Regions from separate parts of the Homo sapiens genome. Here all the other regions are linked to region 2. The links come from fine-mapping of genetic effects on plasma protein levels. A gene starts in region 2. Each other region holds a variant in brackets. All regions are shown on one strand. Distances are between the middles of the regions. Region 1 overlaps ADAMTS15 (ADAM metallopeptidase with thrombospondin type 1 motif 15). Region 2 holds the start of ADAMTS15 (ADAM metallopeptidase with thrombospondin type 1 motif 15). Region 3 overlaps ADAMTS15 (ADAM metallopeptidase with thrombospondin type 1 motif 15).

What was found. PIP is the posterior inclusion probability: the model's chance that the variant is causal. The UK Biobank Pharma Proteomics Project read protein levels with antibody pairs (Olink). The fine-mapping took linkage between variants from a reference panel, not from the people measured, so its PIPs are less certain.
Region 1: its variant is fine-mapped to the plasma level of the ADAMTS15 protein (UK Biobank, PIP above 0.99).
Region 3: its variant is fine-mapped to the plasma level of the ADAMTS15 protein (UK Biobank, PIP above 0.99). The variant lies in the coding sequence of ADAMTS15. If it changes the protein, the assay may bind it differently, which can mimic a change of level.

The regions. Positions count from the first base shown.
Region 1 is chr11:130,473,728-130,481,870 of GRCh38, reverse strand. ADAMTS15 (ADAM metallopeptidase with thrombospondin type 1 motif 15) reads right to left here. Exons shown (of 8, transcript NM_139055.4): 8 at 5,226-8,143. The coding sequence ends at 8,050. Among named protein-coding and RNA genes, the nearest start is that of ADAMTS15, 29 kb to the right of the region's middle. RefSeq lists an enhancer at 2,985-4,184. The variant C/T (reference allele first, on the strand shown) is at 7,703.
Region 2 is chr11:130,443,859-130,452,032 of GRCh38, reverse strand. ADAMTS15 (ADAM metallopeptidase with thrombospondin type 1 motif 15) reads right to left here and starts at 3,388. Exons shown (of 8, transcript NM_139055.4): 1 at 2,103-3,388. The coding sequence starts at 3,059. RefSeq lists an enhancer at 1-419.
Region 3 is chr11:130,458,312-130,466,485 of GRCh38, reverse strand. It overlaps ADAMTS15 (ADAM metallopeptidase with thrombospondin type 1 motif 15), which reads right to left. Exons shown (of 8, transcript NM_139055.4): 2 at 4,865-4,997; 3 at 4,232-4,399; 4 at 3,706-3,989. Among named protein-coding and RNA genes, the nearest start is that of ADAMTS15, 14 kb to the right of the region's middle. The variant A/G (reference allele first, on the strand shown) is at 3,924.

The sequences.
Region 1 (8,143 bases), 30 kb before region 2:
TGTCTAAATAGGTGACTTTTAAAGAAATAAGACTAAAGTGAACTTACCAAGACATAGTGCCCTGGACTCATGGGAACTAACAGAAACTTTCCCATTCAGCAGCTAGGTATTTATCTAATGATCTCGAAGGCAATCTATATGTGCAAACTTGCCTAGGATGTTAGGGGAAAAAATAGCAGTGGCCTAAACCATTGGAATCCCCGTTTCGGATAGAGATTAGGCAACAAGGAGATTTAGCCAGATTGCTTCAGGAAGGTTTTCTTGCCCAGATATAATACATAAAATAAACCTCTCATTCAGAAGATCTTCGGTTTTTGTCAACCTAAGTCCCATCCGCTTGCCAATCCAGTCCACAGTGTGTTACACATTAAAGCCACAGGCTTCCTTATGGGTAACATATGTTGCTGAGACACGTGGAGCCATAATATCTCGTAACCCAGTGATACTGTCCCTAGAGTTAATACAACTCCACTAACATATGTTTCTGCTATTCCCATCCTGAGATACCAGTATTGAAATATATTATGCACAATGTACAGTTAATTGAAAGATACAGGGGGTATATTAAAAAATAAATCTGTTTCTACGACCTCTGCTAAAGTACATTTGAAATACCATATCGTTGATTTCACACTAGTGTACGTGAACTATCTCTGTTGTTTTTTCTGGTCTCTATTTTTTCCTTTCACTCGCCCATGTCTTCTTGGTGCCATGCTAACCACACCACACTAAGGCTGGAGGTTGAGGGATGTGATGCCAGGAACTAAGGCAGTGGGTAAGGAGGCGTGGTTGGAAGTGAGAGCAACAGGAGAAACCATCAGTCATCTCATCCCTCTGAATCCTGGCAGTACCATATTTTAGAAACTTAATCCCAAGAGGAAGTCAAGTACATCCGCCTTTCCCCTGCCCTTGTTGCATGCTCATATCTCTGAGTCAAGGAATGGCCTAATTTTATACTTCTTTTGTAAAGCAAGGAAGTCGTTGAGATGGAAAACATTAATCTGCATTTCCTCTGACATTGCTTTTATTGTCATACGCTGCACACGGTTAGCACTCAAGACCAGCTCATACTTCTCCTAGATATTTCTAGAATTTATGTCATCCTCTCCAATCCACTTACACTGCCAGGCTTTCATGGTCTTAAATCTGGATTATTGCAGGAGCCTCTTACTTGGTCTTTCTGCCAACAGTCTTTTCCTATCCCAGTCCATGCTTACTACCAGCTCACTGGAGTGGTGAGCTAATTACAGTCTGATTTAAAATATTTCCATGGCTCTCTGCTGCCTGTCAAACAAAGCAAAAACTCCCTAATGCAACATAGAAGGCCCTCCATGATCAGACCCCAGCCCAGCCTAGGCTTCAAGCCCACCACTCTCTCATGTATTCTACAGTCCAGCCACATCAAGCTGTTTTCATTCCTGACCTCCATGCCATCGTACGTGCTGGCCACACTTCCAGGAATCTCCTTATCTGCCCAACAAATTCTATTCATTCTTCAAAACTCAGCTCAAGAGCATCATTTCCTCTGACTCCTTCCCAGGTCCACTCAGTGATTCCTGCAATTGCTTCGTGTATAATTCCCATAGATCTAGAAGCATACCTCTGTTGGAGCACTTCTCATGCGCCATCATAATCATTTTCTCATGTCCATCTCCCCCAAAAAAATGTTTCTCGAGGAGTAGGCTAAGCGGTTCATTCTACAACTTCTTCAGTAAATACAGGGCTCGGAGTCCTGATGCTGCCATTTACAAGTCGGGGGAATATCTAAAGGTCCCTAACATCTTTGATCCTCAGCTTCCTGATACACGAGGAGGGGCAGTGATAGAATATAATTCATAATGTTGTTATGAACAATAAATACAATAAGAGAAGTAAAGACCTTAATAGAATGCTTATATATAGTTAATGCTGGGTGATGGCTATTATCATTATATGATTACTGTGTGCCAAGCACTTAGTGCCAAGACAATTAAAGCCTGCCCTCGAGGTCTTTAGGGTATAGCCAAAGAGACGGACAAGCAATTCGCTCAATGTCAGAAGACGCAGAGGGTGCCATGAGAGCTCAAGATGGGGCACCTGCTGTCACTAAATGTCACACCTGCTGGAAAGATTGAAAGCGGACGAATCTGAAACAAGGGAAAACAGGTACAGACTACGGATATACTCCAGTGAGACATGATGCTGGCCTGCACTACAGCAGCAGCAGTGGGAAGGAAGAAAGGGACCAAGTTTGAAGATATCCTGGAGGTGGAATCAAGTCATGTGACTGGATGAATAATGAGATGTTTGGGGTGGTCTGTGTGGGGTTGGTGGGGAGTCTGGGTGAACACAGGTGGGTGGGAGGGTTATGTATGCAGACGCAGAATCCACTGATGTGTTGGTTTTAACTGAGCAGTGAGATAGCACGTGATCCCCAAGGAAAGCGTATGAAATGCGTGAGCTGAGCAGAGGGCTGCAAGGAGCAGCAGCACCGGGCAGGCGGTGAAGATCAAACAGGACCATGTATGCAGACAGACAGTGCCTACACTGAGAAGCGTCCCCACATTTCCACCGGAGACAGGCTCCTTCATCCCTCTTGGTTTACTGTGTGTTCCCAAGGAAGCCTCTGCGTCACAAATACTCATTGACCACTGACTGTGTCCCAAGCCCTGGGCTCTGGGTGCTGTGTGTAACTGCAGCTTCAGAACCAGGTTCCCATGCACTGCAGACTCAGCCCAGGGAGGGTGCTTAGAAAAGCCATGTCATCCTCCTGAACACATTTCCAGAGCACTCTCAAAGGCTCTTTTCTCAAAATCCTCAACAACAACAAAACCACATCAGGAGTATCTGCTCAATTACCCATGGCAGAGATTCGGGGTACTCCCTGCTGAGGCCAGAATCCCAGTCCCCTGAGGTCATCTGAACTGTTGGTCAGATGTCTGGGACAGCAGTGGCTTAAGGCCCTGGACACTGTCTGGGACCGTGGCTAGGTACAGGAACGGGGAATGATACGAAGGCAATTGTTTCTAACAGCCTAGGAGTACAGCTAAAATCTCATCAAATTCCAGCCATTCCCCATGACAATATTTTCACCCTTTTCCCAAATCCAGTTTTTCACGAGGAGATTCCCTCCTCTCTTCATCTCCCTCTATCTTACCCTTTCTGCTAAAATTGTTCTCCTTTGGAAACAAATAGTTCTGTTTCTTCTTTGGAATGCCTCGGGAGGTCAGGAACTCTTATCTCCTCCTTCACAACATTCTGGTCACTGCTTGGAACGTGACTTACGTTACTGACCACAGCTCAGGAGAGCAAAACAAAGGCAGGGCTGCCCAGCTGAGCACGAAGGGGTGGGCCTGAAGGGAGGGGAAGGTGAAGGCTGAGTTTCTGGCTGCCCTCTCCCTCCCCAGTTTCATGCTTTGGAGCAGCAAACATTTCACTGCTGCCTTCTCACAGCTGCCGGGGGCTGAGGGGTGACACCATGGCAGTGATGAAGGGGGATGTTCTGCTCTTCTGGGATTTGTTGCTGGGATTGCAGGCTTCAGGGCTGACTCATCCATGAGGGCTGGAGACAAGCCAAGGAGCAAAGGAAAGACACTTGGGGTCACACGCGCTGCCCTTGGCCACGCCAGCTCAGCCTGCTGGGGGCTCGCCAGGGTTCACTGGGCAGGCAGAGCACGACCCAGGGGTCGACACCTTTTTGTAATTATCAAGGTTTTTTCTCACTGGGGCAAGAACGCATTCCCCTCCAGAGGATGGATTACAAAGCAAATCGTTCCTACCTCTCTTCAAAGGCCAGCAAATTTAGGAAACTGCTGCTTCCTTCTCCAGAAACTTTAAAATGCAGCCAAGCTTGTTGCCCGCCACACACCCCATTGCCTTACCTGGAGCTCTCCTGAGCCTCCAGGCGCCGCTGTAGTTGGGACCCAGCCTCCTCTGCTTCCTCTTTAATTTGCTGATCCCCAAAGCAGCCCAGAGGACCTTTTCCTTAGAAAGGTTTTACTGGCAATTGCTTCAATGGAAAACAAAAAGGATTACAAAAATAACCCCAGGAATATGACAACATTTTGAGCAATTTTAGAAAGATCTTACAATTGCTGACTTCCAGTTTATACATTAACCCAGACCCCTGCAGTTCCCTTCTGGGCCTTCTGCTAGCTCATAGACTCATGCAGCCTCTTCTGGCTAGTTCTTCCTTCTTCCAGAACCTTCTATCAAGTGCTGAAACTTTGTCCAACCTCCCCACATCCCTCACCCACATGCCTGAAGGGGCAGCTCTCGCAGCTCAAGAGGAAGTCATTCCCCATGGCCTTGCCCTGCTGGAAAGTCAACAGGAGAAACCCCTTCATCTCTGAACCCCAAACTGAAAACAAACCATCAGCTAGCAAAATCTAAACCATAACTGGGCCTAGAAACCCAGACTGCTAAAGCTGAACGTGCCCTAATAGAACACTGAATCTACCCTTCTCACTTTGCAGGTAGGAAATGAGGATTCCAAGAGAGGATCTCAGACCCGCGACCAACACGAGTTTCTAGATGTTCTTTGCAATGCGTCACACCTCTCCCACGCCTGTATATTTGCTAACATTTCCAGACCAGCACAAAACTAGGAAGAGAGAAACATTCTCTCTCCAAAGAGAAGGAACCTTTCCCTCGGGACACTTGGGGTTTCCTCCTAAGGCAGGAGACTGGAAGCCCACAGGACAGGGGCCCCTCTGGCCTCTCCCGTGCCTCGTCCCTTCACCCACGCACGGCCCCAGAGCTTCTCTCAAGCACTCCTGAAACCCCGCCCCAGCGGCCCCCAGGACTGGGCCTTCTGCTTGTCTGCTACAAGGCCCGTCCCCTTTTAACAGGGCTGCTGTCTCACCCTTCAATCTGTTTCGTTGTCCCTTCCTCTGAGGGGCTTTCCCTGATCACTCTCTCCCACACCCAAGCTTTTTTTTCTTCGTTTCTTTTTTCAGCTCCTTCTCTCTGAAAAAGTTCAAATGCGATCAAACGCCCACATCCAAGCTCCCACTCTCAGCATCAGTTGGTGTCTCCTTCACTTGTAGCACGATCTGCCACAACTCTCTGCTTGCTGACTTGAGCTCTGCCTCCTCAGCTAACCTGGGAGCTGCACAGGACCAGGACTGTGCCTGTCAAGGTCACTGCTGTCTCCATAGCTCCTAGCACAGTGGCTGGCGAAGCTGGGCATTCCATGGATGTGAGGAATGCATGCATGAATGAGAAGCAGTCACAGAGGCAGGACACAGGTTTTAAATACTTACAGCTTTATTAGGAGAAGGCTGTGGTCACCTCAGCAGCCAGCTCCCTTGTATACACAGTATACACAGCCCAGCCAGCACCCAGGTCCTTCCATCCTTCTGCAGTACATGGAGTGCAAAAGAACCAAACACAACGGCGGGGAGGGAGGGTCTACCAATGAGTGTCAGTGTCTAGTGCTTCCGGGAGCCAACTGCCAGGCTAGGGACACTCAAGTCCCTCAAACTGTCATCAGCTCCTGCCAGACCCCACTCCAGCATGTCGAGGTTCATATGAGAGTGTTTGGGCCAGACTCCTCCAATCAGTGCACGCGATGGGCAGAGGAGGCTAGGGAATCCTGAGCCCAAAGCTGTATTGGTCCATCCCCCTCAAGAAGTTGTTGGAGCTTTCAGAACGTTCCTCTTCTTGTGTAGACATGAGATACCGCTGTAACTTTACTCCATCACCAGAAACCTGTGCCTTGAGTCTAGTCTCTGCTCAGCCCTCGAGAGCATGGTTGGATTAAGGAAATAGTCAAAGGCAAGCAAGACAAACTCCCTAGGTTGTCTTGGTCATGCGTCTTTTAAAAAGGGAAAGAAGAAAAACCACCACAACAGATAAAAGCACCGAGGCCTGGCTTGTGTCAGGAGCCAGAGAGGTTGTCCTTCCTTGAAATGGTTTGTAAAGTGACTGATGGCAAAAGCTGCTCTCCTCTACTGGAGGCCAGCCTCCTACCGATGGCACCTCTCTTCCCACCCACCCAATCCCCCTGCCATCCCGCACAGACCCCATGCCACCCTCTCCTCCTGAAGGAGGGAGTGCACCAAGCACAGGGCGCAGTGCTGTCGTCAGCTATCAAGGATCTGCTTCTGCCTGGTACCCTGGTCCTTTTTGTCCCTTTAGCCCCACAGTGGTCACTGGCACAGAGGGGTTCCTGTTCACTTAGTTCTTCAGGGGTGACTGCAGCCCTGCCTCAGAGACTGGCACCCCCTCTGCCCCCGCATGAACTCTGTCCAAGGTTTCCAGCCCAGCGTTAGACCGGATGAGAACATCATCGCAGAGGCTTGGCTGGCTGGCTGGCTGGTTTGTGGATTCTGACTATTAGGGAAACCCACATAAAAGAACGGAACTCTTCTCTCCCAGGAAGACACATGCTTTGATCTTAGCTCCAGAAAATTCTCCACTGAGGACCTGGATTCATCACCTACACTCAGAAGCAGAATATCCCATGTACACAGTGGGGCATCTGAACCTTCAAGAAACACCCTGCTTAGCCAAAGAAGCTGTGACCCCAAAATATCTCCCCACTTGGAGCTAGAGAAAATGCCTGTTTCTATTTTCCTGACATGTCTATAAGACAGACAGGTCTCCAGCAGTTCATACTAGTGGCTGCCAGGCCCCCTGGGTCAGTCATTGATTCTTGGTGCCTCCTGAAACCTACTCCCAAGGAGTCTGAAGAGGCCCTGTCTTCGGCTTTGGAGCCCCAACAGGGGGCTGGGCTGTGGGGAGCAGGAAGCCACGCACCACACCCTCATTTCTGTGGCTGGACAGCTCGCTCTCCAAAGACTGAGTGTGGTGGAAGGACCAGGTCACCACTGTCCTAGGGGAGGGATACGGCTGGGTTCCCAGAGGGCATAATCTGAGGTAGCAAACAGTGGAGAAGCTAAGGCCTAGGATGCAACGTGACGTGCCCAGGGCAGACAGCAGTAGCTGTTTGGAACGAAGACGAGTTTATAGGCACATAGATGTTCAGCACCTAGCCCTCCTAGGCATGCCCCAGCCCCTCACAATGGGTACGGGACTGTGGCCACTGTCAGGGCTGTCTGAGGCGACACAGACCCTCGGATGTCAGCCTGCATATACGTGCCTCTCTGGAGGAGGAAGCCATTAGAAATGCAGCTTCCTCCTCCCTATCCCAGGGTGACATCTCCCAAAGCCAGGCCCAGAGCTCAGCACCAACCCCAGTCCAGTGACAGCAGAACCCTCCAGAACTTTCTGAAAACTCCCTGCATCAGCCACAGACTGCATAGCCCCTAGCAAATGTCAACATCTTTCTGTAATGGCCGGCTCCATCTTGAAGAAGACAGCAGACTCCCTACTGGCTTTCCCCGCTACCTGCAGAGCCTCAGAGGACACTTCCGTGGCAGCCCTACCACTAGTCCTACACCCTGCACATCAGAGGAAGGAGAGGCTGCTTCTTTATAGGAGGGCCAAGAGTGCAGGATGAGAAACCTCGGGACTCCCTGTGCACGTCCACGTCTTCCAAGGTGGAGTGCCAGGCTCCAGGGGCCCTAATCTCACTCTCCCCGTGGCTTCTGCCCAGCCCCAGCCAGCTTTTATTGCTTAGTCCATGTCAGTTCAAAAAGGAAAGTGGGCTAAAAGCACCGTGAAAACCCTGCCTCGTTCAGACACGGCTCAGAGCCCATGGGGCCACCTGAGGGTGCCAAGCTGCTGGGACATGGCTCTTCCAGCAGCCTGTGGCCTC[C/T]GTTCTGGGGGCCGGGGTCCCTGAAGTTCTGCCTGGAAGGTGCCCATCCTCCAAGTTCCTTGGAAACTGGGCCTCAGCACCTTCTGCCCTGCACCTCAAAGCCTCTCCCCGCAACCGGCCCGAGGAGCGGGGCCTGAGGTAGACTGTGCGGGAGTTCCTGGGCTTCCCTCTGCCCAGTCCAGGGAGGAGGAGGGAACCTCTCGCCCCAGCCCATGGTCCTTGTCCCCGGATGTGGGTGACATCGTGGCGTGAGCCCCTGGCCACCGTCCTCTGCCCGCTACTCCAGCTGGCAGAACGCTGGCATATCAGTGGGGTGGAGAGTGAGGGGGAGAAAGCGATGACCCCACTCAGCACGGCCTCAGGACGCAGAAGTCCAGCTCCTGGGGCTTGCGGTGCAAGTTGCACTGGTCCCGGGCCAGCAGCCGGCCTCCGTGGCCCACA
Region 2 (8,174 bases):
ATAAAGTACATACCTTGATGGTGGCCCTGACCACACAGAAGCCTCACTCTCTAGCTTTGCTCTCTAGGCACCTAAGGGGAAGGCAGCTTCTAAAAGTCACATTTTGCACATCACTGCTTCTGATCCAGTGGTCATGCATCTTGTACCCATTATGCATGGACAACACAGCCCCCGGGGGGTTGAGCACACACCACTGAGAAATAGAAGCTGTCATGCTGTTTGATTGCTTCTTCTTCAAAAGGCGGCCTCCTTCTGACGGCATGGTCCCTATTCCCAGCAGGAGTTCTTCTCCTAGGGCTGACTCCAGAAGCCAGCCTTCACCACCAGGCTGCAGAGGCTGAGGTCTTTTATTTTGGAGCCAGTGAGTGACCTGCACTGGGGCAGCCCAGGTAACGAATGGGGCAACAGCTGCTTTGCCCATTAAGATATCCTGTTCTTGGCCTTTGCTTTTTTTCAAGCCCCAGCAATCTAACTGCCAAGCTGGTCTGTGTGCAGAGGTCAAAGCCACCTCCTTTGCAGCTTCCCCATGACTCAGGCAGTGCTTGCAGAGGCTGGGCAGTGGCAGCTCAACAGACCTCAGTTGGAAGAATGAGCACAAGGAAACAGACTCAGGCCAAAGACCTCCCTAGAGAAACCAGGTGGTGGGAGGAGAAGAAGGCTGGGAACAGAGGAAGTTCGACTCCAGGAAGGGACTAGCTGTGCCAAATGGGTTACTGTGGAAGACTCCAGCTCCAGACTGTGTGCGCCAGTCCAACTTTGAGTGACCATTTGGAAACAGTGGAGAGTTAGAGCCCCACAGGTAACCAAGGATTCCACGCCATCCCCAGAGTGCTGTGGTTATGATAATAACCAAAAAAAAGAGCATGGCACAGATTCAAGTCACAGTCCCCCAAATCAGAAGAAGAGGCTCACTTGGATGGCTCTTTTCCTCCCAGCCTCCTGTATCTGAGAAATTTCAAGAATCCAAATACTCCTCAGTGCCCAATCACTCCAACACCTGTGAATCTAAACGTTTGCAGATTTGTAGCTTCTTTGACATAGAATATCAGGAAAGGCCTTGCAAAAGGCAGGGCTGCTTCCTGGGCTGGGTCCATCTTTCTAATCCCAATACTCAGTTTCCTTCTAACTCTACAGCTGGAATCTCCAAATACTCTTGACTAAGCTCACACCACTTCCACCCCAGCAAGGGCAGAAGCTAGAGCCCTGAAGTCAAGTGTGGTCATAGGAATTTTAGTGACTTGGGAGCAGGAGCAAGCATGCCCGCTCTGCTCTGTAGTATACATCTGGGCAAACGGGTCACCCTCTGACAGCAAGGATACAGGAAAATTGGAAGAGATTTTCCCAACTCAGCTCCAAGTAAAACTCCACTTGAAACTCCAAGTGAAACAGTCTCAGCTCCAAACAGGTGCCCTAACTACACCGCCTGCTCAGAATGGTCTAGAAGCCTCTTGGACCATGCCCAGCAGAGAAGTCTGTAGGAGAAGCGGCAGTGAAGGAGGGATGCTCGCAGTACTTGAGTCTGGCCTGTCACTGCAACCCACAAAATCTCTCAATGATTCCCTCCACCCCAATCCAGGCTTTCCAGGCCCAGTACAGAGAGGGGACAACGTGTTACCCGAGAGAAATGTAGCAAGCGCTGACCTTGGATCACCTTCAGTTCTACAACCCTTGAAAGGAGACCTCAGGAGGTGTCCGAGAAGACTCAGCCGCCCATACAATAGGGGTGGGCCGTTCCCGCCCTCTCCAACACCATCCTCACGGCGTCTCCTATCGGTCTTGGACACAAACTGCAGCTCCGGGGCGGCAACTTCCTGGGTTCCGGCCCCTCGGCGCCTGATCCAGGAGGCGCTGATTGGCCGCGCCAGGCCAACACCTTCGGAAAGCGCAGGCTCTCCTCCAATGGCCCAGATGCACGTGAGCCGCCGCTCCGCGGAGCGTGGGAGAGGGCTCTCCCTGGAAACTCCACAGAGTTGGAGTCGGAAGAGATCAACGAGGTTTAAACTCGGAGGCATTGCACGATACAAAGGGGATTTGGAGCGCTAGGGGAGGTGACCCTAAAGAACGGGACTATCTGGGTGCAAAGTGACGGCAGATCAACTCACCTGCCTGGTGAAGAGGATGGCAGTGTCCCAGTACTCGGGGTGCTTGTCACTCACTTTGTTCAGCTTCTTCTGCCAGGCACAGAAGTTGCGCAGCGTCAGGGCCGCATTGCCGGTGACCTTGGGCCCGGAGTCACGATCTCTAAGAAGCAGCACCTTGACCACAACGATGTTGATGGGGTTGAGGATGCTGGGATGGCGGTAGAGTCGCGCCGCCGTTGCCAGCAGCGTCAGCAGATAATGTTCCAGGTCCGCGCCGTGGAACTTGACCATTGACTCGTCCGCGACCACCAGCGTCTCCACGTACCGCGGGATAGACACGAAACGCTTGGCGCGCCCAGACCTGCGCCGGCTACGACTCTCCCCGAAGCCCGCCCGCCGCGGCTTGTAAGGGTCCAGGGCCCGTAGGATGGCGGGGTTCCAGCCCGAGGCCACCCCGCAGCGAGAGGTGGGGTCTCCGGAAGGCCCGCCCGGAACACCCCGGCGCTGGAGAAGGTGTGCGCCCTGGCTGTTGCGCTGCGCCGCCGGCGCGCTAGCATTGGGCAGCGGGCTAATGACATACTCGGCGCCTCGGTAGCCAAAGGCTCCGCGGAGCCCCCCGCACAGGCTCACAGCAGCGAACGAGTCCGGCTCGGCGTTCACGTCCCCAGAATAGAAGCAGCGTCGCAGGTCTGAAGAGCCCCCGGTGAGCCCCTGGAGGGGGACGCCCAGATGCTCAGTGGAGAAGGCGGGAGCCAAGAACTGAGCATCCGGCGTCAGGTGTAGGTAAAAGTCCTCCTGAAATGCTGTGATCTGAAAAATGAGTCCCTGATCCCCGGAGTCCTCGGGACCCCGCCAGTAGTAGCGGCGGCCGTTAATGTCCGGGTCCAGTCGGATGGGAACGACTACCTCCCGCTCTGGCTCAGAGCCTCCAGCGGTTCGCCCGGCGAAAGCCAGGGTTAGGATGCCCAGCAGAAGCATGGCGCCGGGCAGCGCACCGCCGCGCTGTGGGAAGGGGCTGGGCCGGGCTCTCCGGCCGCTGCCGCGGTCTCCGTGCAGCCCGCACTCTGGAACCGCCAACGCTACGGGACAGCCGGCAGTTCCCAGAAAGGAGAGCCAAGGGAGGGAGACTCCTCCCAGGGCGGCGAGCGTGCACCCGGCAGCCCGCGCTTCCTACCTGTGCCTTTCCAAGCAAAGCGCGCCCTGGGAGCTTAAGTACAATCGCTGTCAAGTGCAAGGACGAAGATTTGCAGCCGAGAACTAGCGGAAGGTGCCGGGCGGCTTCTCGCAACCGCAGCCACTCGCAGCGCAGCAAGCCAGGCGCTGGGCGAGCCTATTAAAGGCCCCCTCCTCTTTGGACGGCCCAGTCAGCGCCCCTCCCCTCACTCCCCTCCCAGCCTCCCAGAGCTCGCTGCCGGAGCCTCCAGGGGCCACCGGAGAACTCGGTCCCGCCTCCAGAGCGGAGAGCCACTTGGCGGGGAGGGAGTGGCATTGAGCTGAGGCAGGAGGCGTGGGCTGGCCCGAGAAACCGGCGCTGAAGTCTCAGTTTGCGTTTTGCTCTTGGTTATGCCCCACTGTCCCGACGCCTCACTCGCTTCTGCCCCCGCGGACAGCGTTCACTCTCTGGGTCTTAGTCTTTTATCTCAGGGCAGATCAGGTCAGCAGCTAGGAATGAAGACCCTTCACTGACCCGTCCCCAGGCCCACCTCATCCCTGCTGTTGCAACATCCCTGCTGTTTCTTAATCACAGAGTCCCCTAAAAGACCCAGAATCAAGAACCACCCCCCCCCCCGCGTAAATGTCCTATTGCCAGAAGAGCAATAGGACAGGGGCATGGGAGCCCTCTGGAACCCAAGACCGCCTAGCCCCAAGGTCTGCCCTGGGCCCATGGTGTGCTGGATGGGCTGGGGCAAACTCTTCAGTTCTCAGGAATCTTGCCAGCCAGCTGTTAATCACGGACATTATTAAAAATTAAACTAAACACACTTACAATTAAACAAAGTGTATATATATATATGCACACACACACACATACATATATATACACATACATATATATATATACATACACACACACACACACACACACACATATATATATATATTTTTTTTTTTTTGAGACGGAGTTTTGCTCTTGTTGCCCAGGCTGGAGTGCAATGACGCGATCTCAGCTCACCGCAAACTCCGCCTTCCGGGTTCAAGCCATTCTCCTGTCTCAGCCTCCCAAGTAGCTGGAATTACAGGCATGCACCACCACGCCCAGCTAATTTTGTATTTTTAGTAAAGACAGGGTTTCTCCATGTTGGTCAGGCTGGTCTCGAACTACCGACCTCGGGTGATCCTCCTACCTTGGTTTCCTACCTCCTACCTTGGTCTCCTGAGTAACTGCGACCACAGACACACGACACCACGCTAGGCCAATTTGTGTGTGTGTGTGTGTGTGTGTGTGTGTGTGTGTGTGTGTGTGTGTATTTTTGGTAGAGACTGGGTTTCGCCGTGTTGCCCAGGCTGGTCTTGAACTCCTGAGCTCAAGCAATCCACCCACCTCGGCCTCCCGGTGCGGGGACTACAGGCGTGAGCCACCATGCCTAGCCACAAAGTACATTTTTAAAAGGTAATAAATACTCAAAACCCGTCGCTTCCTAAGTATTTGATAATTACTTATGGTCTTGAGCCACCAGAACCGCCAACCCTCTGAGACAGCAACTCCCAGAAAAGAGTGCAGAATGGGGTGGAAATGTGAGGGAAATATTAAATGGTGTGCTGCCCTGCATCTCCCCAGTCAGGGACATCACAATGGCTTGAAATAGGTCCTGGTAGAAGTATTTACACCACCTGAATAAGCAAATCAGAGCTGGGGTTGGGGGCAGGAAGATGAGCCCTTGTACACAGCTACCTGCCTGGCAGGGATGTGGAGATCAGGTTCTGGGGCTGCAGTTACAAGAGGAAGAGGCTGTCTTCCAGCAAACAGTAGAAAAATCGGGCCAGGCTTCCTCCATGAAATTATCTCATTTGACCCTTGACCAAACCCTGGACTGGGGACTGGCATAGGAGGCCGAGTGAGTATCAGCTGGAGAAGATGCAATCGCACCTTATGTTCCCATCTAGTTTGGAGAACAGCCCAAGGAGTTTTTCAGGCTCTAGACCTCAAGATCCTTCTTACCTCTCCGCAGAATCAACTTCTTTCTCTGACAAGGGAGAAAGGCAAGGAGAGGAGGGAGGCTTTGCTACTCTCTCCTGATACCTAGAAAATCTTTCTGGAGCCAAAGGGCTCTGAGTTGAGTTTGCAAGAGGGGAGGACAAAGAAGGGAGTGTGTGATGATTTTAAGCATAAAGGGGATGATGTGGGAGAATTTTGGAATTTTTTTTAGGGAAGTGGCTGTTCAAGGGAAGAACTCTATTGTCCAAGGAGAGAAAAGGCTGGGACTGGTCCATCAGTGAAGAGCACTTTTTGCCCATTATCTTCTCCCCATAAAGGATCCACTCTTGGAAGCGCCCCCTGGGGCCTTGGAACATGAAGATGGCTCAGATGCCCATAATTCCAGTGAGGCCTCTCCTTGATTGGGACACAAGGAGCTGAAATTCATTATGTGAATGAGTGAGAGATGGGTGTTTATACTCTGCAAATGAAAGAGAGTGTATGGGTATGGGAGGACTGTGTGTGAGACAGGGAGTTCAAGCTTACAAAGGCCCTGTGTGTTTGAGCGTTCAAAGAGGGCCTATAATTAAAGAGAAACGCAGACAACCAACAGCAATGATAAGTCATTTATTTGGGGCAAGCAATTGTTTTACTACACCCGGCAGTTTTAAAGGTGGATTGCAAGGTTTTCAACGGCACTTTACTTTCATTCTGACCCATGGGTTTTGGCAAGGGCTGCAGCATGTCAGTCAAGATGGCAGGGACCTGAGACAGGAAGTCCCTCCCACTTAGTGCTCCCCCTGCCCCAATCACAGCCCAGCTATTCTCACCCCTGAGCACAGAAACTGGCCATGTGGATTTGCTCAAAGGGATTAGCATGTATTGCAGGCTTAGTATGTGCTAAACATTGCACCAAGAGTTATATGTGCATTCTCGTATTTAATGCTTGACTGTCCCCTCTTGGAAGCCTGTGGTTCCATCCAATCACTTTTGCCAGGGAATTGAGGATCTAGGGATATGTTGAGCACTTGAGTAGAGGTGATACTCAGGATTGGCACTCCACTTCTATCACTGATCTGATTCTCTGACTCGTCTGTCAAAAGAGAAGGGGTTATCCTAGCTCAGAGGTCTTCAGCCAGAGAACTGCATCCAAAATCTGTGGTCTAGATAATACCTAAGATAACGACCAGGTCAAATATTACATGACTGATTGAGGCCTATGGAAGGGAACATAGTACAGTGATTTAGAGCCCATGGTCAGAGGGCCCTGTGTGCATGCCTCCACCAGATCTTAGCTGTGCAATCTTGGGTAAATTACTGTACCTCTCTAAGCCTCACTTTTCTCATTATTAAAATGGGGATACAAATTCTACCCACTGCCTGGACTAAATGAGTTAATATTATACTTCCAAAGTGTTTGGCAATGCTTGGTATATTTTAAAAGTTCCTTAAATATTATCGAATAGTACTGCTAATATTCTTATGTGCTATTATTATTACTCCTCCTAGTGCTATCAGTCTCTGCTAGGCCCTCCAAGCTGATTGCTGTCATCACCTTCTGAAGTTTTCTGGGGCGTGTCCTCTCCCAGTTCTGCTCGGGAGCTTTCACATTGGCTCCCACGTCCCACTTCCATAACGGGACTCCACAACCGCCATGGAGTTCTCGCTTCTCCTGCCCTCCATGATCTTAACATCCCTGGAAAATAAAAAGCAACTCCCTGTCAATGTATGAAAATGAAAATTTTTTAAAAAGCAGCTCTTCCCCCAGAGGACGACTGGGGGTCTAAGCCATCTGTCAGATCTAAGACCCCCAGCTTGGCCTTTCTGTCCTTCGCCAACTAGGCTGGCCTCTTCACAGCCTCCAGGTCTCAGCCCAAGTACAGCCCCCTCAGAGGGGCCTTCCCAGACCGCCCAATCTGAGAAGTCCCAAGTCACAATCATGATTGCATGTTTTGTCTTGTCCACTAGCATTTACCTCTATCTCTCTATCTAAACCTATTTTGCTCACTTAGATCTTTTTTTTTTTTCTTGACTGACTTCCCTCCGTTAAAATGAGAGCAGGACCTTCCCCATCTCGTTCACTGTTATATCTCCCAGAGCCTGACACAGTGCTGGGCTCACAGGGGCGCTCCAAAGATACTGAGCAAATGAATCAACCCAATTCTAATCCAGCTTGGTCCCTTACAGTCTGTAAAATATTGGACAAGATACTTCATCTCCACAATGAAAATGTGGCTCTCTCATAGAGCGAGTGCCTGACATACTTCTCTCATAATTATGTATTTCTACATCTCTCTGACAAAAACCTTAGCCTGGCACCCTAGTTACCTAGCCCAGTACCCTAGTCACCTAACCCAATACCCCAGTCACCTAGCCTAGTACCCTAGTCACCTAGCCCACTACCTTCATCCCATAGGTGTGGCAGCTGAGGTCCAGAGAAAGGAAGTTACTTGCCTAAGGCTACCCAGCCAGTTTCTCTACTCATCTCATGAAATCGTTTCTCTTTACTCTTCATCTGAAAGCCTGGCCCTAGCTAAATTCATTAGCTTGAGTGCTCCTGCTCAGAAAGTGTTCTTTCAGCATGCGTATTTATGTGAGCCTTTCCTCCCATACAGAATGGCCTCTCAGCCTCATCCATGCCTGCCTATATAACCCTCACTTCCTATAGGAAGCCCCTTGACTTAACTCACACAGCTCTGGTTGCTCTTTTTTGTTAGTTCCTCTGGCATATATGCATCCCATTTCCAGCATAGGCAGAGTCCATTTGAACTCGCTTGCCCTTTGCTAATTGTGTGTTCATCCCTTTTCCCGAGACTGGGCTGCAGCCACACTTGTCTGGAAACTCATCAAAAGGAGGGCTTCCTTTCCTATTATACTAGTCTCCATGACAGTCCCCAGAGGAGGTGTTAACTTCCTGGTCAAGCCAGCTGGATGCGGCAGGTTCCAGGTAGAAGATC
Region 3 (8,174 bases), 14 kb before region 2:
GTTTCAGGTTGAGCAACCAGAATGTGGAGTTGCCAGCGCAGCTTCAGGGGAGATGACCAGGAGCTCAGTCTCACAGACACATGTATAAGATGCTAATCAGGTGTCCAATGGACACGTCCAGATTCCCTTAGAGAAGCAAGTCTGTAGGTCAGGAGCGAGGCCTGGACTGAAGATGCAAATTTGGGAGTCTTCAAGCTCTAAATGGTATTTAAAGCCATGGTCTAGATGAATCAGCGAAGAGATTGAGTGTGGATGGTGAAGAGGGAAAGGAATGAGTGCCGAAGCACTCCAAACTTCAGAAAATGAGAGTACAGGCCGGGCGCGGTGGCTCACGCCTGTGATCCCAACGCTTTGGGAGGCCGAGGTGAGCAGATCACCTGAGGTCAGGAGTTCGAGACCAGCCTGACCAACATGATGAAACCCCATCTCCACTAAAAATACAAAAATTAGCCAGGTGTGGTGGCGGGCGCCTGTAATCCCAGCTACTGGGGAGGCTGTGGCAGGAGAATCGCTTGAACCCGGGAGGTGGAGGTTGCAGTAAGCCAAGATCATGCCACCGTACTCCAGCCTGGACAACGAGAGTGAAACTCTTGTCTTAAAAAAAAAAAAAAAGAAAGAAAAGAAAAGAAAAAAGAAAATGAGAGTACAAGGAAGAAGCAGTAAAGGTAATGAGAAGGGGAGGGGCAGCGTGAGGAGGAGGAGGACAACCGAGAGGCAGTGGAGACCCTGTTCCAGGGCCCAGAGCTCTGGGTTGCCAGAAATGCTGCTAGCCGGCTGGACGATGGGAGGAAAGGTAACAGTCACTGACCTTCGTAGTGTGCAGGCCATTTGGTAGCCTTAATAAGAGTTGTTTTGGAGAAATGATGTCAGTCAAAGCCTGTTTGGAATGGGCAGCAGAGAAAAGTGGGAAGATGGAATTGGAGACAGCAAGCTTGTACAACTCCTTCCGGGAACCTGCTGTGAAGGGAGTCAGAGAAACAGACCACAGAGGAAGTGGGATCATAAGAAGTTTTGTTTCAGATGGGAGAAATTACAACAGGTTTGTATTCTAAAAGGCATGATTCAGCTCAAGATTGGGAAATACTGGCACTGCAGGAGAGAGAGAATTGATCAGCGATGTCCCTAACAAGCGAGAGGGGATGGGGTTCCCGCGCAAAGCACACAGCATGGCCTCAGATCACAGCAGGGACAATTCAGCCACTGTAAAGGGGGACAGTGGAGAACAGGTGCGGAAGCAGGTCGGGAGGTGGGTGGAAGTTCCCTTCTGATTACTTGGTTTTTTCCCCCGTCGGGAAATGAGAAGAAAGGTCATCAGTGAAAGCTGAAAAGGAGGAAGAAAGAGTTAGTAATGGGAGGAGAGAGGTGATGGTGGGTGTGAACTAACGGTTCAGGAGGTTGGGAGAGTAAGCCAACTGGGGAAATGAAATATATGACTCCTGGACAGCATTATGGGCCCACCTAAATTTCTGGGTCATCAATTTATTTTACTTTTTTCTTTTTCTTTTTTTTTTTTTTCCTTGAGATGGGATCTCACTCTGTCACCCAGGCTGGAGTGCAGTGGCGTGATCATGGCTCAGTGCAACCTCTGCCTCCCGTGTTCAAGCCATCCTTCTGCCTCAGCCTCCTGAGTAGCTGGAACTACAAGCATCTGCCACCACATCCCACTAATTTGTGTATTTTTTGCAGACATGGGGTTTTGCCATGTTGCCCAGGCTGGTCTCAAACTCCAGGGCTCAAGGGATCCTCTTGCCTCAGCCTCCCAAAGTGCTGAGATTACAAGTGGGGGCCAATGTGCCCAGCTCAGATCATGAATTTAAACTGAGACCAGTGAGCACAATTGCATGTTTTTCTCACTGGGTGAGGCATGATGGGAAGGCATGATGGGAAGGGTGAGGCATGATGGGAAGGTTGTTGTAGCAATAGATTGTAGGCCCAGATGGGATTGAGGAATTGTTGGAATCCAAAACCCAGAGGGAGTAATCTGGGAAGACAGGGCCTTGGTGGTCAGAATGGGATTCCTGAAACAGATCTGTGGGAGCTGCAGTGATTTGTAAGACATGCTTTATGATCTGACCTCAGCCAGTGAGGGCAATGACTTCCATGAAGGTTTCCTGGAAAGTTTCAGTTAAAACAAGGTGGCCAAGGGATTGTTTAGAAAAGAGGTTGAGGAGGTAGATCTTGCCTGATCATAGACAGAATTCCAGAAAGTGTGGAAAGATGGTGCTTCTCAGACTGCATTTTCTCTATCCAATATTATCTCACCTTGTCTCTGCATCCTCCAGCCTCATCTTCTCAGGACGAGGCACTGGCCACATATTGCCTGTCCTCAGGACCTTCTAGTGCCTGGCAATCAAGGTGGCTGCTGTCTGGCCCCAAATGACCTTCCTGAAGATGGTTCCCATAGAGCCCTCATCTACACAGCCCTGCAGCTCACTCCGACCTGCCCAGGACCGCCCGCCTCCTTGCCTTGCTCTGTTTCTGCCTACAGGGATCCTACTTATCCCTCAGCCTCTCTTCAAATCCAACCTCCTCCAAGTTTTCTCAGCCCCCTCTCATCATCATTAATCTCTTGACCCTGGTTCTCCCGTGACAATTTTCATCCTTCTGTCCTTCCGCATAACATGTGCCTCTCTGTGTCTTGTATCACAGCTACAATTCGAGCTTCCCCACTTGACTGTGAGCTCTCTGAGGCATGGCCTGTGTTTTATTTCTTTTTCTGACCACCACAGTATCTTACACAGTTCCCTGAACACAGTGGGTTTTTGCCTAGCCAACGGTTGAAGGTTTAATTAGACATGTATCCCCAGAACACAGAAAAACATTTTAAATAATTCTGTGCCATACTCATCTCAGGGCAATTGATAATGTGCTTGGTGGATGCTTTTTTGTGACACTGCCTCTGTGCCCAGAGGCAAGTCGTCCCCGAGCTGAGAACAGGGGATGGGAAGGGACAGTCAGCTCCAGGATCCGGGAGGAGAACAGACCTCTTATTCCTGCCCGGAAAAGTACAAATCCCTCTCCTACCCCCAAAACCCCCAAAACAAGACCTGAACAAGATAAAGTTATTATATACAGAGAATATTTGGCATTCTGAATGTGTTCTTGTTTGGTTGCTATTCGTATTTATCAGGAGGGAAAACAAGTATTATTCAACTATGTTCCTGCTAAAGAAAAACAGCAATCGCAACAGAAATGGAAGCTTGATTCAGAATGCAGCCAATTCCCGAAGCTTGCCCAGGGCTTTGCTTCATTGCAGCTCTGAGCCCTGTTCCTGAGCATGGTCCCCAGCTCCCTGGGTGTGGAACACACTGGGAAAGAGTGGATGAGAGAAGGAAGGGATGAGCCAGCGAGTGAGCCGCTCCTGACACTATGTGTTCAGTTTTGAGCCCAGAGCTCCTCCCCAGGTAGGACGAGGCCCGGAGCTCAGGGCTGAGACCCCACGTCCTGTTGAAGGCTTTTCCCCATGTGTCTGAGGCCTCACCAAGTCCTCTGACCTGCCATAGCTTTTCTCTCCGGTCTTAGAGTCAAGAAGGGGATAGGACTATATACAGGGCAGTGAAGGCACAGCTCAGCCATGCAACAGTGCTGGTCCCGTGGCCAGTCTGTGATAGGCACCTTCCTGGTGAAGACCAAGGGCAGACGAGGCCCCCGGGTCTCCATCCCTCCTCCCAGCAGTCCCCGAGCGCAGCTCCAGCACTCACTCACCCTGTGCTTGTTGAGGTTGTGTCTCTCCACGCAGGCCCCTTTGAGGCAGAGCTTGCCCTCGCCACAGCTGGTGCCATCGGCCCAGGGGAAGTGGCGGGTCTGGCACACCATCTGTCCCTTGGCCTTCCCGGTGCACCACAGCTTGGTGCAGTACTGCATGTAAGGACAGGGCTTGGAGCCCACGCCAAAAGCCAGCTCGCACTGCTGGCTCAGGGTGT[A/G]GCTGGCGCCCGGCAGATCCTCGGGCAGGGAGATGGGCTTGCTGGGTTGGTCCAGGAGGCAGTCACCTGCAGAGAGCCGAGGGCGTTCGTTAGGATGAGCTGGGAAGATGAGGTTTGGCTAGCCCAGAATCTGAATGGTAAGGGGATAATGAACCAAGGGCAACAGGAATGCACTCATGTCAGAGCCCGGCTCCGAGGGGGCACACACACCTAATGTACAGAGGACGGAGAAGTGAGCACCTCCACCAGGGGCAGCAGCAAAGCCCCCTCCGAGGCGGCCTCATTGCCCTCCCGCCGTCCTGGCTTACCGTGCCCGCTGTCCAGGAAGTCGGTGATGATGGCAGCACTGCAGGCTGACCAGGGGTTGGCACGGTCGATCTGGATGAGGGTCGGGGACATCATGTGGTTGGCTCGGAGCTTCCCAAACACCTCCTCACAGACTTTCACATTGTCATGGGGCATGTTGAACACGTGGCCTGTGGGGTAAGGCAAGAGGACTGAGAGGGCAGGAGGAAGGACATGGGGGTTGGAGGGAGGAATGGGGCAGGGGAACTAGAAAGCCCATGTCAGAGGTTTTCAGGCTGGTCATTGCCAACTATCGACAGACTGCTTTCAAATGTCCTCAAGATCATGTTCTTGTGTTTTCTGTCCCCTCCGTCAGGCTGTGGGCTCCCTGACAACAGAGTGTACCTCCTTGTCGTTAACATGGTGTCCCCACAGTGCCTAAGTGCTGAGACACTCTGCCAAGGGGCTCAAACCACGTCATTGGCCAGCGGGGCTGGGGCAATCGGAAAAAGTACAAAGCTGCTGCTAAGGCTCACTGTGCCCTAAGAAGGGGTCCTAAGGCTTCAGAACACAAGGGGGCAAAGACACACGTCTCCCACCCTCCAGGCTCCCCAGGCAAACCCAGAAGACCCCAGGAGGAGCTTATCCAGCCTTACCCAGCTCGTGGGCAGTGGTGAAGGCTGATGGAAGCCCATCGTCCTCAATGACAGAGCAGCTTCTCTTGGGGTCACACATGGTACCCACATCAGCCATGCCCAGGGTGTCACAGGTGGTGGCTCCACACAGGTCCTGCCGGGTGGGGGAGAAGCAGAAGCCAGCCCGAAGTTAGAGACAGTGACAGAAGGGACCTGAAGGGAAGAAAGGACATCCTATAGGACATTCCAGCTCATCTCATTCCAACCTCACCAGGCCCAGCACCTTCCAGCTGGGCTCTTCTTCCTAGGAGGTTGTGGGGCTGTTCACAGAATCAACCTGGCTGAGGGAGGAAACCCAGGAAGAGCTCTGTGGCTTCACCAAAAACACTCTGCCCAAACCCTATGCAGGGAGGTCCTCTGGGAGGAAATTAGGAGGTACAAAATTAAACTACAAGGGCCACTACTTTATAGAGAGACGGCCCTCCAGACCAGAAAAACAGTGACTCCCATAGCCAAGGGAGGCTCGCTGAGGCAACAGGGAGGAAGCCAGTCCCATTCCCACCCAGAGGCAGCTTCGAGCAGCCTCGGTCTTTGCTGGGCTGCCTTTTGGCCAACCATGAATTAAGTTAAGATTCTCAGCCAGAGGGCTGCTGGCCAAGGACCCACCCATGCCAGTGATCAGGCTGGGAGGAAGCATTGAGGTGGACCCCAGACCCCATCCCGGCACAGTTTCATTGGCTACAGAAGCTCAAGGGGACACACGCTCAGTGGCTGCTAGGAAGAAAGATACATGAAATAGAGAGATGGCCACCTAAGCAGGAAGGTCCCTCGTTTTGTACTGAAGCTTAACTTGGCCACAGAACCTAGGGCCTCCAGCAGAAAACCCTGACAGGAAGTATTCCCAGGGGACGCAGAAAGGCAGGATAGGGCTTCCGGGGTGGATATCTCAAAGAACTTACTGAGCATCGTTGGCCAGAAACACATTCAGATAACTTAAAAGCCCAAAAGTTGGAAATAGGATAAGACATTTGTGTACATTCTGCTCCTCTTAAGAAGACGTGTGTTGGGCCAGGCACGGTGGCCCACACCTGTAATTCCAGCACTTTGGGAGGCCGAGGCAGGTGAATCACCTGAAGTCAGGAGCTCAAGACCAGCCTGGCCAACATGGCGAAACCCCATCTCTACTACAAATACAAAAATCAGCTGAGCATGGTGGCAGGTGCCTGTAATACCAGCTACTAGGGAGGCTGAGGCAGGAGAATCGCTTGAACCTGGGAGGCAGAGGTTGCAGTGAGCCAAGATCACACCATTGCACTCCAGCGTGGGCGACAAGAGCAAAACTCCGTCTCAAAAAAAAAAAAAAAACAGAAGATGTGTGTTGAATCAGTGATGCTGGTTCTCTCATTACATCGCTGCCTTTAATGCATAAGGCATTCTGCATTTCACAGGAAGCTGCTACATGTGTCACCTCATTTAATCCTCACAATAGGCTTATGATGCAGACATATTATTGTATCTATGTGTCAGAGGTGGGAACTAGGCTCATGCCTATAGTTCATCATGGCTATGATGTATTAAATGCTGACACTGTGCATGCACTTTGCACACACAGCCCTATTTAATCCTCACAACATCCCACTGAAATAACGACTATTACTACCACCTTCCACAGGCAAAGAAGCATGTGTCTGCATGCATGTGCACGTATATGCAAGGCCACATGTGCATCTGTGTACATGCTGGCAAGGGGCGAAGGTGGGCAGCAGCACAGCGCAGGGAGCCAGGAGCCAGGGGGCATGGGAGGAAAAGCGGTCAGAGTACAGAAAATCAGCAAAATTTAATCCAAAGCACTCAGAGGTTTACCACCTGAGCAGTCAAACTTGGCTTCCCACGGTCAGATGATAGTCACACCTCCTAATGAGTGAACAGTTATTCCGAGGGTGACCAGCCTGAACCCGGGTGCACCAGAGGCAGTGATGTGTGCCCTGCACACCCAGCCAGGTCTGCCACCTGTGCTTGCTGGAAGCACTACCTCCACTTCTAGGAGCCCCATGGAGGACTTCAAATGCCCTTCTCTTCCCATATTCTTTCGTCTTCAAAGACCCACTCTCCCAGAAAGTTTTCCTTCCCAAGAGCTCTGAAACCTAGAAAACAACCACTGTCAAAACTTGGGAGGGGCCTGGGCGCAGTGGCTCATGCCTGTAATCCCAGCACTTTGGGAGGCCAAGGCAGGCAGATCGCTTAAGTCTAGGAGTTCAAGACCAACCTGGGAAACATGGTGAGACCCTGTCTCTACAAAACATAAACAAAATTAGCCAGGCATGATGGTGCACACCTGTAATCCCAGCTCTGCCTCCCAGGTTCAAGCGATTCTCCTGCCTCAGCCTCCCTAGTAGCTGGTATTACAGGCACCTGCCACCATGCTCAGCTAATTTTTGTATTTGTAGTAGAGATGGGGTTTCGCCATGTTGGCCAGGCTGGTAGGAGGAGGCTGAGGTAGGAGGATCACTTGAGCCTGGGAGGGTAATCTACAGTGACCCGTGATCACGCCACTGCATTCCAGCCTGGGTGACAGAGCAAGACTCTGTCTCAAAAAAAAAAAAAAAAAAAAAAAAAACACTTGGGAGGGGACCTTCACCCGACCAGCAGTTTAGGGAATGTGACAGCTGAGAAACATGGATCAGCGTGTGAACTGTGGGGAAGGGAGCCAAGATGAGGGCAGGGATGAAGGCTCTTGCAAGGGCATAGTGAAGGATGTAGGTGTAGGACGGGTGTGGTGTAGGACCCAGCAAGGCTGGAGCTCTGGACATTCTAGCCTAGCAGTTGCAGCCTGCGGGGGCAGGCACCTACCCTTGCCTCTGGGCTGCCCTGCACACTCACTGCTCCCTGTGTAAGAGGGAGAGGGCGCAGAAATAAGAATCAAGAAGTCTAGATTCCGGTCCTGGCCCTATCACTAAGTAGATGTGTGACTTTATCCAAGTCCTCTCTCTTCGGGGCCTTGGTTTCCTGCTCTGGGGAAGGGCCAACTTTCAACTAGAGCCTGAATCAACCAGTGCTTTCAGCCTCTGCTCCTTCCCCAGTCCCAGAGCATGCAGCCCCTTCTGGCCCTGTAGGTTATAAAGGGAACCCACAGAATGACATATTTTTAGAACCCCAAGGAACATCTTGTCTACTGACCCAAGTCATGTAGTTGACAGCACTCGCTCTCAGAAAAGTGGAAGTCACCCACGTGGAGATTCAGAGTCCTGTTCCCCGGCCCCGCTCTTCAGAAATGCCTAGACCAGGCAGGATGCAGTGGCTCGGGCCTGTAATCCTAGCACTTCGGGAGGCC